2 separate regions of the Homo sapiens genome follow, and region 2 is linked to region 1. Evidence: fine-mapped QTL for protein levels in blood plasma. Region 1 holds a variant in brackets. A gene starts in the other region. All regions are shown on their reverse strands.

What was found. PIP is the posterior inclusion probability: the model's chance that the variant is causal. The UK Biobank Pharma Proteomics Project read protein levels with antibody pairs (Olink). The fine-mapping took linkage between variants from a reference panel, not from the people measured, so its PIPs are less certain.
Region 2: it holds the start of ICAM4, and the variant in region 1 is fine-mapped to the plasma level of the ICAM4 protein (UK Biobank, PIP above 0.99).

The regions. Positions count from the first base shown.
Region 1 is chr1:25,346,219-25,354,742 of GRCh38, reverse strand. TMEM50A (transmembrane protein 50A) reads right to left here. Exons shown (of 7, transcript NM_014313.4): 4 at 3,050-3,117; 5 at 1,769-1,861. It overlaps LOC124904823 (small nucleolar RNA U13), which reads left to right and starts at 8,366; the gene lies at 8,366-8,469. The variant C/T (reference allele first, on the strand shown) is at 3,629.
Region 2 is chr19:10,281,502-10,289,499 of GRCh38, reverse strand. It overlaps ICAM4 (intercellular adhesion molecule 4 (Landsteiner-Wiener blood group)), which reads right to left and starts at 2,545. Exons shown (of 3, transcript NM_001544.5): 1 at 2,094-2,545; 2 at 1,662-1,964; 3 at 980-1,514. The coding sequence starts at 2,487. The coding sequence ends at 1,396. It overlaps ICAM1 (intercellular adhesion molecule 1), which reads right to left. Exons shown (of 7, transcript NM_000201.3): 3 at 5,714-6,019; 4 at 5,180-5,467; 5 at 4,843-5,097; 6 at 4,472-4,717; 7 at 2,885-4,385. The coding sequence ends at 4,213. LIMASI (lncRNA inflammatory and mucous response associated, antisense to ICAM1) reads left to right here and starts at 6,050. Exons shown (of 4, transcript XR_007067138.1): 1 at 6,050-6,179. It overlaps ICAM4-AS1 (ICAM4 antisense RNA 1), which reads left to right and starts at 481. Exons shown (of 1, transcript NR_186335.1): 1 at 481-3,699. RefSeq lists a silencer at 624-693 and enhancers at 2,418-2,557, 1,904-2,873, 2,928-2,977.

The DNA of each region.
Region 1 (8,524 bases):
AATGCAAACGGGGGATAAAAATTATGATAATAACTAAAAACATAAGAAAAAAGGAAATAAACCAAAATATTGAAGAGTGGTGAAATTATTATTACTTCTTTTTCTTTTTTTCTTTTCTTTTCTCTTTTTTTGAGACAGCGTCTCACTTTGTCACCCAGGCTGGAGTACAGTGGCACAATCACAGCTCACTGCAATCTCTGCCTCCCGGGCTCAGGTGATCCTCTCACGTCAGTCTCCCGAGTAGCTGGGACCACACATGCACGTCACCATAGTCGGCTAAATATTTATTATTTGTAGAGATGGTGTCTCCCTATGTTGTCCAAGCTGGTCTCAAAATCCTGGCCTCATGCAGTACTCCCTCCTTGGCCTCCTGAAGTGCTGGGATTACACTGCACCCACCCTTTTTTATTTTCTACAATTTTGGTAACATGATTTTAATAATAAATTACACATGGCTAGGCCTAGTGGTTCACACCTGTAATCCCAGCACTTTGGGAAGCTGAGGCAGGCAGATCACTTGAGCCCAGGAGTTTGAGACCAGCCTGGGCAACATGGTGAAGCCCCATCTCTACAAAAAATACAAAACTAGCAGGGCGTGGTGGCATGCGCCCGTCATCTCAGCTACTCAGGAGGCTGAGTGGGAGGATTGCTTGAGCCTGGGAGGTGGAGGTTGCAGTAAGCTGAGATTGTGCCACTGCATTCCAGCCTGGGTGACAGAGCAGACCCTGTCTCAAAAAATAAAAAAAATAATTAAAATAAAATTAAAAATACAAATATTTGGAAATATCTATTACTCCCATCTATGAGATTAAATGATTTTAATAAAAATTTAGGAAACATTATTTTAATCTACAAGTTACATTTTATTCAAATAAGTGTTAAAATATGAGCAGAATATATATAACCTGGTCCAGTTTTTATAAATCATTAATACTGTATTTTTACTATGACACCCATAGCAATTTTACCTGGACCATTAAATGGGTTTTCTGTTTTTCTAGGGTCCCTCAAGGTGAAATTTCTCCCAGGGTCTAACAGTATACCTTTTCCTGAGCTTGCCTTAAAGTGGCCTTATATAGCAGATGTATATTAAATGTTAGTTTACTTTTCTGTCTGAAAGGAGGTGACATCATATTACCAGGGAGGCTTAACTGAATAAATCTCAATTCTGGGATGTTAGAGCTTTGCACAGATATTCTGAAAGTCAGAACTTGTTAGGCCAGGCTTGAGGCCAGGAGTTCAAGGCCAGCCTTAGCAACATAGCAAGATCCATCTCTATAAAAAATTTAAAAATTAGCTGGGTGTGGTTGTGTGTGCTTGTGGCCCTAGCTACCTGGGAAGCTGAGGTGTGAGGATGGCTTGAGCCCAGGAGGTTGAGGCTGCAGTGGGCCATGATCATGCCATTGCACTCCAGCCTGGGTGATAGTGAGACTCTTGTCTCTAAAAAAGAAACAAAGCTTGCTAACTAGCTAGATAACATATGTTCTGCTTTTGAGATTTTTGGAAGCCAAAGAAAAGCAGTGTTTAGAGCTGTCTCATCCCTTCCAGGCTCTGGATAAGAAGAAAAATGACTGAAGAAAGGAATACTAAAAATATATAAGACAAAGAAAACCAAACACTGTCGGTGGAGGGTGGGGGGTCCCGGATATAAATGCATCGCTAGTAGTTGGCCCAACTATAGGAAAAAAATTTTATTCTAAAATAACCAACTTTAATGCAAAATTCCAGTATTCCACTGAAGTAAATTGTAACCTATGTTTTCTCTTACCTTTAGCAACATAACCTCCAAAAAGAATCCACATAGATGCAATCAGAGATCCAAAGGCCAACATGAAACCAACGAAAAGCCAAATGCGAGCACCTTCAAAGAAATAATATTTTACCAGAATTCTTTCTTATAGGGCAGTACAATTAACTTTCAAAAAGAAAATAAAACCCAAACAGAAAAAAAAAAAGTGCAACTGCCATTAAAGTCTAACGTGAGAACAGTAAAGGATGTGTTAAACATCTTCATCAGTGTACCTGTTGGCCTTTTTCTTCTTGGTTGGTCTGTATAGATTTTTAAAAATTATTTATGAGTCTGTATAAGTGCATATACTTACTTTCCCCAACTGCCTACACTGAGAAAACCTATACTCAACCTTCCTATAAAACATCTCATAAAATCTGTTTCACCATATTTAGAGGCTCATTCTCCTTATGCTTTTATATAGACAATGATCCCACATTTTTTTTTTTTTTTTTTTTGAGGCAGAGTCTTGCTCTGTCTCCTAGGCTGGAGTGCAGTGGCGCAATCTCGGCTCACTGCAAGCTCCACCCGCCCAGGTTCATGCCATTCCCCTGCCTCAGCCTCCAGAGTAGCTGGGACTACAGGCACCCGCCACCACGCCCAGCTGATTTTTTGTATTTTTAGTAGAGACGGGGTTTCACTGTGTTAGCCAGGATGATCTCGATCTCCTGACCTTGTGATCTGCCTGCCTTGGCCTCTCAAAGTGCTGGGATTACAGCCGTGAGCCACTGTGCCCGGCCGCTCCCAGATCTTCCAAGAGTACTTTCAAACAGTAACACAGACATACAGTAAAAAATTCATATTCAGTGACATACGAATCTCCAAGCTACCATATTTCACTTTCAGGGAAGTTAGGCAGCAAAATAAATTCAAATTTACTGTGACTAGAACTTAGGAAGGTTGCATTAAAATTATGTTAACAGAGGAGGACAGGCAACTTTCAAATCACATTAACATGTTTATGAAGATTTGCTATAAATAAATGGAGTCATGACTGCCTAAAATGAATTCTGATAGGGCCTCTTTAATTTGCATAAATACATTTTAATAAAAACACTGCCTACACTCAATAAAGCACGGCAAATAGAATGTTATATATTAATTCCCAATTTCAAGCCCAAAACATAAAACAATAGATTCAAAATAATAAGCTGTTACTCACAGATATATTAAAACAAATAGAAAAGTGGTATTTCCATGTGAAATACTCATCTTAAGGATTTAAGCATGTATAATAAGATGCTGTTTGCACCTATTTACCTGTTTGACCCAGACAACCTTCACTGTAACTATCACCTCGGACTTGTCCATTCGATACTGCATTAATCCTGTATGAATAAAATAAAACCAAGAAATCAGGGTCCATGACACCAATTACCAGAAACAATAATCTACAGTTTCTCAAATGTAAGGTTAGGCCTGAAAGTCTTTTTTTTTTTTTTAAAGATACAGGGTCTCACTCTGTTGCTCAAGCTAGAATGCAGTGGCACAACCATGGCTTACTGCAGCCTTGAAATCCCAGGCTCAAGTGATCCTCCCACTTCAGCCTCCTGAGTAGCTGGGATTACAGGTGTGCACCACCACACCCAGCTAATTTTTAAAAATTTTTGTAGAGACAAAGTCTTGCTATGTTGCTCAGGCTGGTCTCAAACTCCTGGCCTCAAGAGATCCTCCTTGCCTTGACCTCCCAAAGTGCCACTACACCTGGCTCATAAGCCTTCAGTTCTTGAGTAAAGAGTTCATATGACTGGTCTCTTCAACCAGATACTCCTTTTTTTTTTTTTTTTTTGAGACGGAGTCTCGCTCTGTCTCCCAGGCTATAGTGTAGTGGCACGATCT[C/T]GGCTCACTGCAACCTCTGCCTCCCAGGTTTTACGCCATTCTCCTGCCTCAGCCTCCCGAGTAGTTGGGACTACAGGCATGCACCACCTATGCCCGGCTAATTTTTTTTGTATTTTTAGTAGAGATGGGGTTTCACCGTGTTAGCCAGGATGGTCTCGAACTCCTGACCTTGTGATCCGCCCGCCTCGGCCTCCCAAAGTGCTGGGATTACAGGTGTGAGCCACTGCGCCCAGCCAGATACTCTCTAGAGCAGTGGTCATGGGCCCCAGGCTAGCGGAATCAGCATTACTTGGCAACCTATTTGACAAGAAAATTCTCTTGGCCCTAACCCAAACCTAGCAAAGCAGACACTCTGGGCATGGGGCCCAGAAATCTGAGTTTTAACAAGTCTTTCAGGTGAGTCTCGATTGTTAAAATTTGGGAACGAGGCTGGGCGTGGTGGTTCATGCCTATAATCCCAGCACTTTGGGAGGCCAAGGTGGGCGGATCACCTGAGGTGAGGAGTTCAAGACCAGCCTGACCAACACAGAGAAACCCCGTCTCTACTAAAAATACAAAATTAGCTGGGCATGGTGGCACATGCCTGTAATCCTAGCTACTTGGGAGGCTGAGGCAGGAGAATTGCTTGAACCCGGGAAACAGGTTGTGGTGAGCTCAGATCGTGCCACTGCGATTCAGCCTGGGCGACAAGAGTGAAACTCCGTCTCTTAAAAAAAAAATCGGGAACAAAATTCTCAAAATTTTCTTTTGCTAAGATTGGAACAGGTAAAAAGATAATTTTGCTTGGTTCTATCTGATATTCCATTTGTATGTATCAGACATAACATGTACTCATGTATGGCAATGGCAGAGGGAGAAAATGGGCCCTGGATAATCCAAATATTTCTTAAAATTGGCTTTGGAATAAATTTTTTTGTAGTAATTTTGTACTGATATCAAATGTTTGGAGAAATAATTATATTTCAAACAATACAATAACTTTTTGCTCTGAAGATATTATCGAATAGAGATTCAAGTGGTAAAATCTTGTTTTTTAAATCCTTGATACAGGCTCTAAACATAAGGTGTTTTACTAACTCTTCATAGCATACCACTCTAAATTGAGATAGGCTTGCTTTCTTTAGAAGTATCCTTTGAAACATTCCAAATGTCATGGGAAAACGTTCACAATACATCAAGTTAAAGTTACAAAACATTATACCTATGATATATATACCCATTTAGTTGTGTGTGTCTAACACTAGAATATAAGCTTCATGAGGACAGGAGCCATTGTCTGTCTTGTTTCTCATTTTCATTCTCAATGCCTAGCACAAGGCTAGGGGCTTCGCACATAGTAGGTGCTCAATAAATGTGTTTAGGTCAGGCCTGGTAGCTTGTGCCAGTAATCTCAGCACTTTGGAAGGCCAAGGTAGGAGGATTGCTTAAGCCCGGGACTTTGAGACCAGCCTGGGCAACATAGTAAGACCTTGTATCTATGAAAAAAAAAAGTGAATATAGGAATCCTAGTTTTTTTCACAGTAATATGATGTCTTAATTTATTCATACAAATCTAAGTTTCAGAATGATCAAAATACTCAATTATTTTCAGTGATCTCTGTACAGTACTAAATTATTTTGTATATAAAATAGATACATTAAAAACAGGTTTCATATATAAAAGTAAAACACAAATAAATGTTCTTGGGTTACTGGTTCTCAGCTCGTTTTCCTTGCTGAGCCATCTGAATAAACTTCAGAGCCCTCTGTGAGCCACCACAATCCTGTCTTCACTATTAGGGACACTTTGGAATGAACAATCTCTATTTGTTCTCTGCTATGATTATTTTTATGTATGTTCTCCAATTTATAGAAAAGTTACTAGTTAAATAATCTTTTTACTGAAACGTCTGGTATTTGTCAACATGATGCTCCATAACTGGGGGCTATAGGTGTGCTCCTGGTGTTGGGGTGTAGCTGTTCTGGGCACTCTTAGCGGACAGAGCTGCCACACTGCTTCTCCTGCCCCATCTGGACAGCCTCTTCACCCTGCTCAGACTCCAGCATCCCATGTAGGGCTGCCTTCTTCCATCCCACGCTCCGCTGCATGGATCCCCTCCTCACCCTGCTCAGGATCTGAGCCCATGCTGAGCTGCCCCTTCCCACCCTGCCTGAGCCCAGCAGCCTGCTCTGGGCCACCACAACTTGTCTTTCTATAGAGGATGCCTCTCATGCTTGACCTCACCTAATAGTTTTTGGACTGAATTTTTCCAGGAAGAGGAAAGGAAGTGGAGAAGAGTTAAATATTACTTTTAAAACATATAGATGTGTGTTAGAGAAAGAGAAAACAGAAGAGAACACTGGTAGAATATCTGTCAAAATGTTATAGTTTGGTGAGATTATAGGCAACTTCGTTTTTGCTTATTGGCATATCCTACTTTTTTTTTTTTTTGAGATGGAGTCTTGCTCTATCGCCAGGCTGGAGTGCAGTGGCACAATCTCAGCTCACTGCAACCTCCACCTCCCGGGTTCAAGCGATTCCCCTGCCTCAGCCTCCTGAGTAGCTAGGACCACAGGCGCGTGTCACCACACCCAGCTAATTTTTTGTATTTTAGTAGAGACGGGGCTTCATCATGTTGGCCAGGATGGTCTCGATCTCCTGACCTCGAGATCCTTCCACCTCGGCCTCCCAAAGTGCTGGGATTACAGGCGTGAGCCACCGTGCCCGGCCTACCCTACATTTTTAAAATTAAAAAATACAGAGTAATACACAGAACATTTATTAATATTTTTAAAGCCACAAAATCAGAGAACTTTTGTAATAAGAGAAAAAATAATAAAGTCATTAATGAAAGAATAGCTGCTTTTTGACTCCTATCCATTTGAATTATAATTAACTAACAGTTTTTGTTTAAAATTATGGCCTGACACTATCTGACACTATAATAAAAAGATGTAAACTGAAGCCAAATAGATGATAAACATTTATAAAGACATGAAGTCAGCTCTGCTATAATTATGTTAATGCAACAGAATGTAAGTTTAGCAGGAAACACGTTTGAATAGTACATTCAAGCTCATATACAGCTATAATTCCCCTCCATAGTCAGACTTGCTACTGCTTCAAAATGGAACAAAATAATTTTTTAAAGATCTGAGAACAAAAGCAGGACAAAAATACAATCACAAAAATAAAACTTTTAAATCTAAACCAATGTTGAAATTTAGGTGTCAGCTTTCTAAAAGAATTCTAACAGCATCATTATTACGGTAAAATAAATTGCAACAAGATGGAAAGAACTAGAAATAGCTGCATACTGGCTGAACTTCAAAGAAAAAGACCACAGCCCTTTGCTATCAGTGGCTTCTGAAGTCAGACCTTTACTTCTGCGAATGAATAACTACTCTGGCACTGACTCCATGCCAGGCACAGTCAAACTGGCTGCCCTTAGCCACTTGCTTTACTCTGAAAATACAAGTTACTGTGTTTACACTTAAGTAACTGTAGCAAAATTTAAAAATGTGTGTAATTTTCAACTTGGATTACCTGGAAGCCTGTATGAGATGACTCTACAACCTAAATTAAAAGTCTACAGAAGGCCGGGCATGGTGGCTCACGCTTGTCATCCCAGCACTTTGGGAGGCCAAGGCAGGTGGATCACCTGAGAGGTCAGGAGTTCGAGACCAGCCTGGCCAACATGGTGAAACCCTTCCTCTACTAAAAATACAAAAATTAGCTGGGCACAGTGGTGGGCGTCTGTAATCCCAGTTACTCAGGAGGCTGAGGCAGGAAAATTGCTTGAATTCAGGAGGCAGAGGTTGCAGTGAACCGAGATCATGCCACTGCACTCCAGCCTGGGCAACAGAGCAAGAGCCTATCTCAAAAGAAAAAAAAAAAGGTCTACAGAAAGCTGATGGACAATGGTAGAGGTCAGGATGGGGGCTATACAGGTGTGATGGAAGTGCTGATTGAGAATGTTCTGGGGTGATGTTTTAAATCTTGATCTAGATGCTGTTTACATGGGTGTATATATAAGAAAAATTTGTTGAGATGTATATATGACTTGTGCACTTTATGTATCTCACTAAATGCGTTTTTTGTTTGTTTGTTTGTTTTGAGACAGAGTCTCACTCTGTCTCCTGGGCTGGAATCCAGTGCCGTGATCTTGGCTCACTGTAATCTCTGCCTCTCAGATTCAAGTGATTCCCCACCTCAGCCTCCTCAGTAGCTGGGACCACAGGCATGCACCACCATGCCCGGCTGATTTTTGTATTTTTTTGTAGAGACAGGGTTTCACCATGTTGGCCAGGCTGGTCTTGAACTCCTGACCTCAAGTGATCCGCCCACTTTGGCCTCCCAAAGTGCTGGGATTACAAGTGTGAGCCACCATGCCTGGCCAGAATGCATTTTATATTACATTTTTAAAATAATAAAGGCAGAGAGCACAGTGACTCACACCTATCATGCAGCACTCTCGGAGGCCAAGGCAGGAGAATCACTTGAGACCAGGAGTTCAAGAACAGCCTGGGCAACATAGTGAGATCCTGTCTTTACAAAAAAACTGTTTAAAAAATAGCTGGGTGTGGTGGTATGTGCAAGTAGTCCTAGCTACTGGGGAGGCTGAGGCCAGAGGACTGCTTAAGCCCAGGATTTTGAGACAGTAGTGTGTTATGATCACACCATTTGCACTCCAGCCTGGGTGACAAGCGAGGCCCTACTTCTAAAACATTTTTTTTTTAATTTAAAAGGAAAACCTGATTCTTTTGTAGTTCTTAGGCACGATGATTGGGTGTTCATGTGCATGTTTGAGATGTGCCTCCCTCAAACCTTGTTCTTACATCAGCACCTTACACGTCTAACATGAAAAGAAAAGAAAAGAAAAAAAAGAAAGGCCCACAGAGAGAGTTGATCCCTAA
Region 2 (7,998 bases), not on the chromosome of region 1:
TCACTGATCCTTCTCCTTTTGACCCCGCGGAGCCATACCTCTAAGCACCCCTCCGGGTCAGCTCCCGCACGCGACGGAGGGGGCGGGACGAAAGTGCCAGCGAGCCGAGGACACGTGTGCGTGCGCGCAGCGTTCGCGGGCGTCTAAATTAGAATCCGCTCGGCTCCGGGTCTGTATTTACCCAGGGTGCAGCGGGCACGTGTCTACTCAGCGTGTGTGAGCTCGAGCCACCCTGGAGCGCCCCTGAGTCCGCCTTCTGCTCGGTGGGTGGGGGCCCTGACATCCACGCGAGAACAAGGGACCGAGGGTGATGCTTTTGACTCCGCTTCCGGGCCCCAAGCTTTGACACCCCCCACCCCCAACTCCATGCGCTCATCTGGCTGGGTGACTACCAGAACATCGTCAGAATTCGAGTTTGTGATATTCCCTGTGGACCATCTGATCACCCCTTCCCGGCTGCCACCACATGGATACCTCTTCTGCGTATCCACGTCCCTCAATATGTCCGTGGGACCCTCCCCTCCCCACCATTCGTGGTCTCACTCCAGCGTGGTAAGTTATTTTGGAGATGAGTTCTCGCTCCACAGTTGTTTGGCCTCCAGGAAAGCACAGGGTCTGAAGGTGGGGCTGGGATAGGAAACTTAACATCCAATCAGAGCTGCCGCGTGGTGGCGGCGGCGCCAATCAGGAAAGCCATACCATGAACCCCACCCCGCCCCTGCCCGTGGCTCTCCCCGGCCCGCGCTGATCCCACTCGATAAGGCCAGCAGAAGGAGAGGTTTCTGTGACACCCGCTGGGGATACACAGAGTCTGGGGCTTCGGGACCCCAGGTGGGCCCTGAGTGAGGAAACCTCAGGTGCCCTCAGGGAGACAAGGAACTTGGAGAAAGTGATCGCAAAAACAACAACAACAACAAAAACAAACCAGTTCCTCCGAAGAAGGGCAGTAATGCGGACCCTTAGGTCACAGGACAGAGGCTGGTTAAGGAAGCCTTTATTGATTCCAGAGGGTTCCCCCGCCAATATTTATTTTTATTTTTATTTTATTTTTGGAGACAGGGTCGTGCTCTGTCCCCCAGGCTGGAGTGCAGTGGCACGATCAAGGCTCACTGCAACCTCGACTTTCAGGGCTCAAAGGATCCTCCCAACTCAGCCTCCCGGGTAGCTGGGACCACAGGTGCGGGCCACCACACCAGGCTAATTTGTGTATTTTTTGCATAGACGGGGTCTCACTATGTTGTCCAGGCTGGTCTCGAACTCCTGGGCTCAAGCGATTCTCCTGCCTCGGCCTCCCAAAGTGCTGGGATTACAGGCGTCAGCCACCATGTATGGCCATTTCCCCAGATTGTTTCATATTCCTCTTTTTCTCGCTCAGCCGGCATAGAACATCCCCCTTTACGCCTGGGACTTCATAGCTAGGCACTTGCATAGGTACGCAGCGCCCACAGTGAGGAGGATCCCTACAAGGGCAGCGATGGAACCGGAGGCCAAAGCTGTGGGCGCGGGGCTCCAAGCTGGGAGCAGAAGGCGAGAATTAGGAACGGAACACAGGGAGGTCTGTCGACCCGCGTGGAGCTCACGCTTGGTCTGTGCGCCCTCTCGGGGTCATAACTCTCTCTGCCCCCTTCCTCCTAGTCCCCAGGGTTACAGGGGTGCCTCACCGAGCATCAGTGTAATGGGTGCCGAGCTGTTGCGGACCACCAGGCCGTCGAGATTGAGGCGCGCGTGGCAGATCACGGGCTGCCAGAAGTCGCGGGGTCCAGCAGCAAACTCGTAGGTCAAGGTCACGTTGGCCAGATCCAGGCCGGTGAAGCGCTCCAGGCTTTCGGAATAGATGACCCGGCTTCCATGCCTCAGGGTCACCACCAAGTAGCCCACCGGGAACACCTGCGTCACGTGGCAGCGCAAAGTGTATTTCCTGCCCTTTAAGACCGGAGGCTCCAAAATCACGCTGTGGGGCGGTTCTAAGGCAAGGGGGAGCCTCTGAGTGAGGTCCGCGGGCGCTCCCTATAGAGCGACTGTCAACTACCCTTCCCCCACCTCTTCCAGCCCCCTCCCCTCACCCCAGCCGGGACCGAGCCCCTGTCCCTCACTGTAGGCGGTGATCCTGGAGGTGGCCCAGCGTGTTTTTCCTGCGCAGGTCACGAGGCAGTGCGCGAGGGAGCTCCAGGCCCTCACGTCGAGCAGCTGGTAAGACACCCAACCCGGCCCTCTGAGCGTCTTGCCTTGCCGCAGCGGGGTGCGGAGGCTGGAATTCTGCGGCTGGGGACAGCTGTTGCTGCAATTGAGCTGCACTGACTTCCCCGGCTGCACAGCCACGAACTCCGGGCTCATGCGCACCCAGAAGGGCACTGAGGTCCCGGAGGGCGCGAGAGGGCTACCCTTGGGGCTTTGCGCCCGCTTAGTCCGGCGTCCCAGCGCGCTCCCAACTCCCGGGTAGGCGGCCGCCAAAAAAAACAGCAGCGACAGAGGGAACAGAGACCCCATGGCAAAAAGCCCGGACTAAGGGGCCCCGCGCCAGAGAGCCAGGGCCGGCTCTAGAGATAAGGAGGCCCGCAGCCCCGCCTCCTCGACTCCACCCTGGAGAGGAAGGGGAGGCCCCAACAGAGGGCCCGGGAGTACTGCAAAAAGGGATTCCGCTCCCCAGGTCAAGAATAAGATTCCAGGCCTCATTAGAAACCAAATGTTTTTTTCTGGAGAGGAGTCTTTAGTTTTCACTAGAGACCCAGAAGGTCATAGAAAGTCCGATTTGGACCAGAACCTCAGGGTATGGCCATCAACCCACAATGTTTTCTTGGGGGAGGAAGTGGGAGGATCAGGCTGTGGCTGCTTAGAAAGGACTCCAGCTGGATGTGACACCTCCCCTCAACTCACACAAGGCTGAGGCAGTTGAGAAAGCTTTATTAACTAACACAAAGGAAGTCTGGGCAATGTTGCGAGACCCCGTCTCTGGAAAAAAAAAAAAAATCAAATTTGCCAGGTGTGGTGTTGTGAGCCTATGGTCCCAGCTACTCAGGAGGCTGAGGTGGGAGGATCACTTGAGCCCAAAAGGTCAAGACTGCAGTGAACCATGATTGCACCACTGCACTCCAGCCTGGGTGACAGAGCGAGAGCTTGTCTACACATACACACACACACACACGCGGATGAGGCTTCCAAAGCTGGGAGGGAGTCCTCCAATACCTTGGCCCCCTTCCCCACTGCTTGCAGGACCCTGATCACTGCAGGAAACTGGAGCTGCATAGTGCAAGCTCCCAGTGAAATGCAAACAGGACAAGAGGACAAGGCATAGCTTGGGCATATTCCCTGGGCACTCATGTCCAGACATGACCGCTGAGTGTCATTGTGAACACTGGCAGAAATGTATGTGGGTGGGGAGGTGGCTAACAAAGGTGTCAGTTTTGGGGGGAAGGGAGGAATAAGGCCTCACTGGGTAATCTCTGAACCTGTAACCATTACCAGTCCATATAGTGCTTTTGTGCCGATAGAAAAATCACTCCTTCTGGGGAAAGGCAGGTTGGCCAATGAGAAGTCCCAGCCCCATTTGATCTTTTTGCCAGGCACTCTCCTGCAGTGTACAACCTGTACAACTGTACCTGGTGACCTTGAATGTGATTAGGACTGGGAGCTCCGTGAGGCCAGAGACCTATGTTCATTTAGCCTACATAAAAGACACTCAATAAATAGCTGGTAAAATAACAAATGAATAAATACATATCATCAAGGGTTGGGGTCAGTAGACAGCAGTGCCCAAGCTGGCATCCGTCAGGAAGTGTGGGCCTTTGTGTTTTGATGCTACACATGTCTATGGAGGGCCACTTCTTCTGTAAGTCTGTGGGGCCTCAGCATACCCAATAGGCAGCAAGTTTCAGTATTTCCCAGTTGTATGTCCTCATGGTGGGGCTATGTCTCCCCCACCACTTCCCCTCTCATCAGGCTAGACTTTAACATCCATCAATCATGTCTTGAGTCTTGCTCCTTCCTCTTGGCTTAGTCATGTGACTACAGATCAGATGCGTGGCCTAGTGTTTTAGGTGTGCAGGTACCATGGCCCCAAATGCTGTTGTATCTGACTGAGGACAATGCCCTGTCCTCCGGCGTCCCAGGGCCGGTAGGTGTAGCTGCATGGCATATGTCTTCCACTCTGTTCAGTGTGGCACCACTGCCACCAATATGGGAAGGCCGAGGAAGAGGCCCTGTCCCGGGATAGGTTCAGGGAGGCGTGGCTTGTGTGTTCGGTTTCATGGGGGTCCCTTTTTGGGCCTGTTGTAGTCTGTATTTCTTGATCTTCCGCTGGCGGTTATAGAGGTACGTGCTGAGGCCTGCAGTGCCCATTATGACTGCGGCTGCTACCACAGTGATGATGACAATCTCATACCGGGGGGCTGTGGGGAGGATACAACAGGCGGTGAGGATTGCATTAGGTCCATGGCCCCTGCCCCCACCCAGCTCTGCCCGCCGGCTCACTCACAGAGCACATTCACGGTCACCTTGCGGGTGACCTCCCCTTGAGTGCTCCTGGCCCGACAGAGGTAGGTGCCCTCAAGATCTCGAGTGACAGTCACTGATTCCCCGATGGGCAGTGGGAAAGTGCCATCCTTTAGACACTTGAGCTCGGGCAATGGGTTCCCCCAAGCCTGGCACATTGGAGTCTGCTGGGAATTTTCTGGCCACGTCCAGTTTCCCGGACAATCCCTCTCGTCCAGTCGGGGGCCATCTGGAAAAACACGATGAGATGACATGGAGGTGGGTGGGGGCAGGACTTGGAGGCAAGACCTTATGGGACCTTCAGGGAGATTGGGCCTTGGGGGATAGGGGCCATTGACCAGCAGCCCCACTCACACAGGACACGAAGCTCCCGGGTCTGGTTCTTGTGTATAAGCTGGCCGGCCACCTCCAGGGTTGCAGAGCAGGAGAAGCTGCGCCCGTTGTCCTCTGGGGTGGCCTTCAGCAGGAGCTGGGCCCTCGGGCCCAGTGGCTGGGCTGGAACCCCATTCAGCGTCACCTTGGCTCTAGGGTGGGCCTCACACTTCACTGTCACCTCGGTCCCTTCTGAGACCTCTGGCTTCGTCAGAATCACGTTGGGCGCCGGAAAGCCTGGAATAGGCACACAGTGAGCCCCGCCCCGGGTTCAGGTCACACCCCCAAGAAGCCCCACTCCGCCCCTGCCCCTTCTTACTGTAGATGGTCACTGTCTGCAGTGTCTCCTGGCTCTGGTTCCCCAGTATTACTGCACACGTCAGCCGCTGGGTGCCCTCGTCCTCTGCGGTCACACTGACTGAGGCCTTGGCCGAGAAGGAGTCGTTGCCATAGGTGACTGTGGGGTTCAACCTCTGGTCCCCCAGTGCCAGGTGGACCTGGGCCTCCGAGACTGGGAACAGCCCGTCCAGGGAACAGACCACGGTCCCCTGCGTGTCCACCTCTAGGACCCGGGGGCTGACAAGTTGTGGGGGAGTCGCTGGCAGGACTAGGGAGAGAAGAAAGGTGTGAGCAGACAGGGATGGACGTCCCGAAGCCCTTCTCTGGGGCATTTCATTCCCCCTCCTGCGAGATCCTCTTCCAGGGCCACTCAGCAGCCTAGGTCACATACGCCTAGAACACATGCACCCCTTAGCCGGGGCCACACCCATCTCAAAAGATCCTGTGGCCACAGGCACCGCATTGCAGGATACCCCACCCCCACCTTCTCCCTGCTGGCTTCTTCAATCCTCACCAAAGGTCTGGAGCTGGTAGGGGGCCGAGGTGTTCTCAAACAGCTCCAGCCCTTGGGGCCGCAGGTCCAGTTCAGTGCGGCACGAGAAATTGGCTCCATGGTGATCTCTCCTCACCAGCACCGTGGTCGTGACCTCAGCGGGCTCCCCCACAGCTGGCTCCCGTTTCAGCTCCTTCTCCCCACGGAGCAGCACCACGGTGAGGTTGGCCCGGGGTGCCCCACCCTCCACCTGGCAGCGTAGGGTAAGGTTCTTGCCCACTGGCTGCCAAGAGGGGAGGGGTGCCAGTTCCACCCGTTCTGGAGTCCCTGCAGGAAAACAGAGGTGGGGGTGTCTGGTGAAGTGGACCTTGCTGCCTGCCTAACAGACGAACTGCACCTGCCTGGGAGCCCTACCTCTTCAGTATCTCCCCCAAACACGCCCAGACACCTAAGCAGATAGGAATGTCAAGATCTTCAGTGAAAACTGGTAAGAGGGCCCCGAGTGTTTGTGAAGGGGATCAAAATATTCCTTATTCATGACAGCAGCATCTTAGAGTGAAAAGTGGAAAAGAACTTCAAAGTCTATTGCTAGGTGTCTGGTCAAATAAATTCAGCAGCCCAGTGCACTAGACTGGGCAAACAGTGGCTCGATCTTGGCTCACTGCAACCTCTGCCTCTGGGATTCAGGGGATTCTCCTGCCTCAGCCTCCTGAGTAGCTTAGATTACAGGCACACACCACCACACCAGGTTAATTTTTGTATTTTTATTTTTAATTAATTAATTAATTAAGTTTTTAGACTGAGTCTCCTTCTGTCGCCCAGGCTGGAGGGTGATGGCATGATCTTGGCTCACTGCAACCTCTGCCTCCTGGGTTCAAGCAATTCTCCTGCCTCAACCTCCTGAGTAGCTGGGATTACAGGCACGTGTCACCACACCCAGCTAATTTTTGTATTTTTAGTAGAAACGGGGTTTCAGCATGTTGCCCAGGCTGGTCTCGAATTCCTGACCTCAAGTGATCTGCCCACCCCGGCCTCCCAAAGTGCTGGGATTACAGGTGAAAGTAAATGAGCCTGGCCTAGACATTCTTTAAAAAACAAAACAAAACAAAAAAAAAAACCTGTTGGCCAGGTGTGATGGCTCAGGCTGTAATCCTAGCACTTTGTGAGGCCAAGGCAAGAGGGTCACTTGAGGCCAGGAGTTCAAGACAAGCCTGGGCAACATAGGGAGACCCCCATCTCTAAGAAAAATTAAAAAAAGGTTGGCAGGGCGCGGTGGCTCACGCCTTTAATCCCAGCACTTTGGGAGGCCAAGGAGGGTGGATCCACGAAGTCAGGAGTTCGAGATAAGCCTGACCAACAGAGTGAAACCCCGTCTCTATTAAAAATACAAAAATTAGTCTGGCATGGTGGTGCACGCCTGTAGTCTCAGCTACTCGGGAGGCTGAGGCAGGAGAATCTCTTGAACCTGGGAGGTGGAGGTTGCAGTGAGCTGAGATCGTGCCACTGCACTCCAGCCTAGGTGACAGAGCGAGACTCCATCTCAAAATAAATGAATGAATGAATGAATGAATGGTTAACTGGGTGTGGTGGTGCACACCTGTAGTCCCTGCTACTTGGGAGGCTGAGGCAGGAGGATCACTTGAGCCCAGGAGTTTAAGGCTATAGTGAACTGTGATCATGCCACTGTACTTTAGCCTGGGAAAGAAAGACCCTGTTTCTATTAAAAAAAAAAAAAAGTCAGTAATGACAGAGTCTAATAACAAAAAGGCTGCGTGTGGTGGCTCACGCCTGTAATCCCAACACTTTGGGGGGCCGAGGCAGGCGGATCACCTGAGGTCAGGAGTTCAAGACCAGCCTGGCCAATATAGTGAAACCCCGTCTCTACCTAAAAATACAAAAATTAGCCAGGCGTGGTGTTGTGTGCCTGTAGTCCCAGCTACTTGAGAGGCTGAGGTTTACTTGTGAGGAAAGGATTACTTCAGCCCAGGAGGCAGAGATTGCAGTGAACTGAGATCGCGCCACTGTACTCTAGACTGAGTGACAGAGTGAGAGTCTCTCTCAGAGGAAAAAAAAAAAAAAAAAAAAAGCATCAGGACCGGGGGGGTCCTGCATTTGATACCCAGCCTTGCTTCTTTGCTGTGGGTAAGTGACTTTGTCTCTCTGAACCTCAGTTTCCTGAACTGTAAAATAGGGCTATTAAAGGTAGGAGAATTCACTTAAGAGGTAGACAGAGTCGCTGTACATAAGCAGGAGGTTTCTTTTTTAGAGTGATTGAAATATTTTAAAATTAGATTGTAGTCATGGTT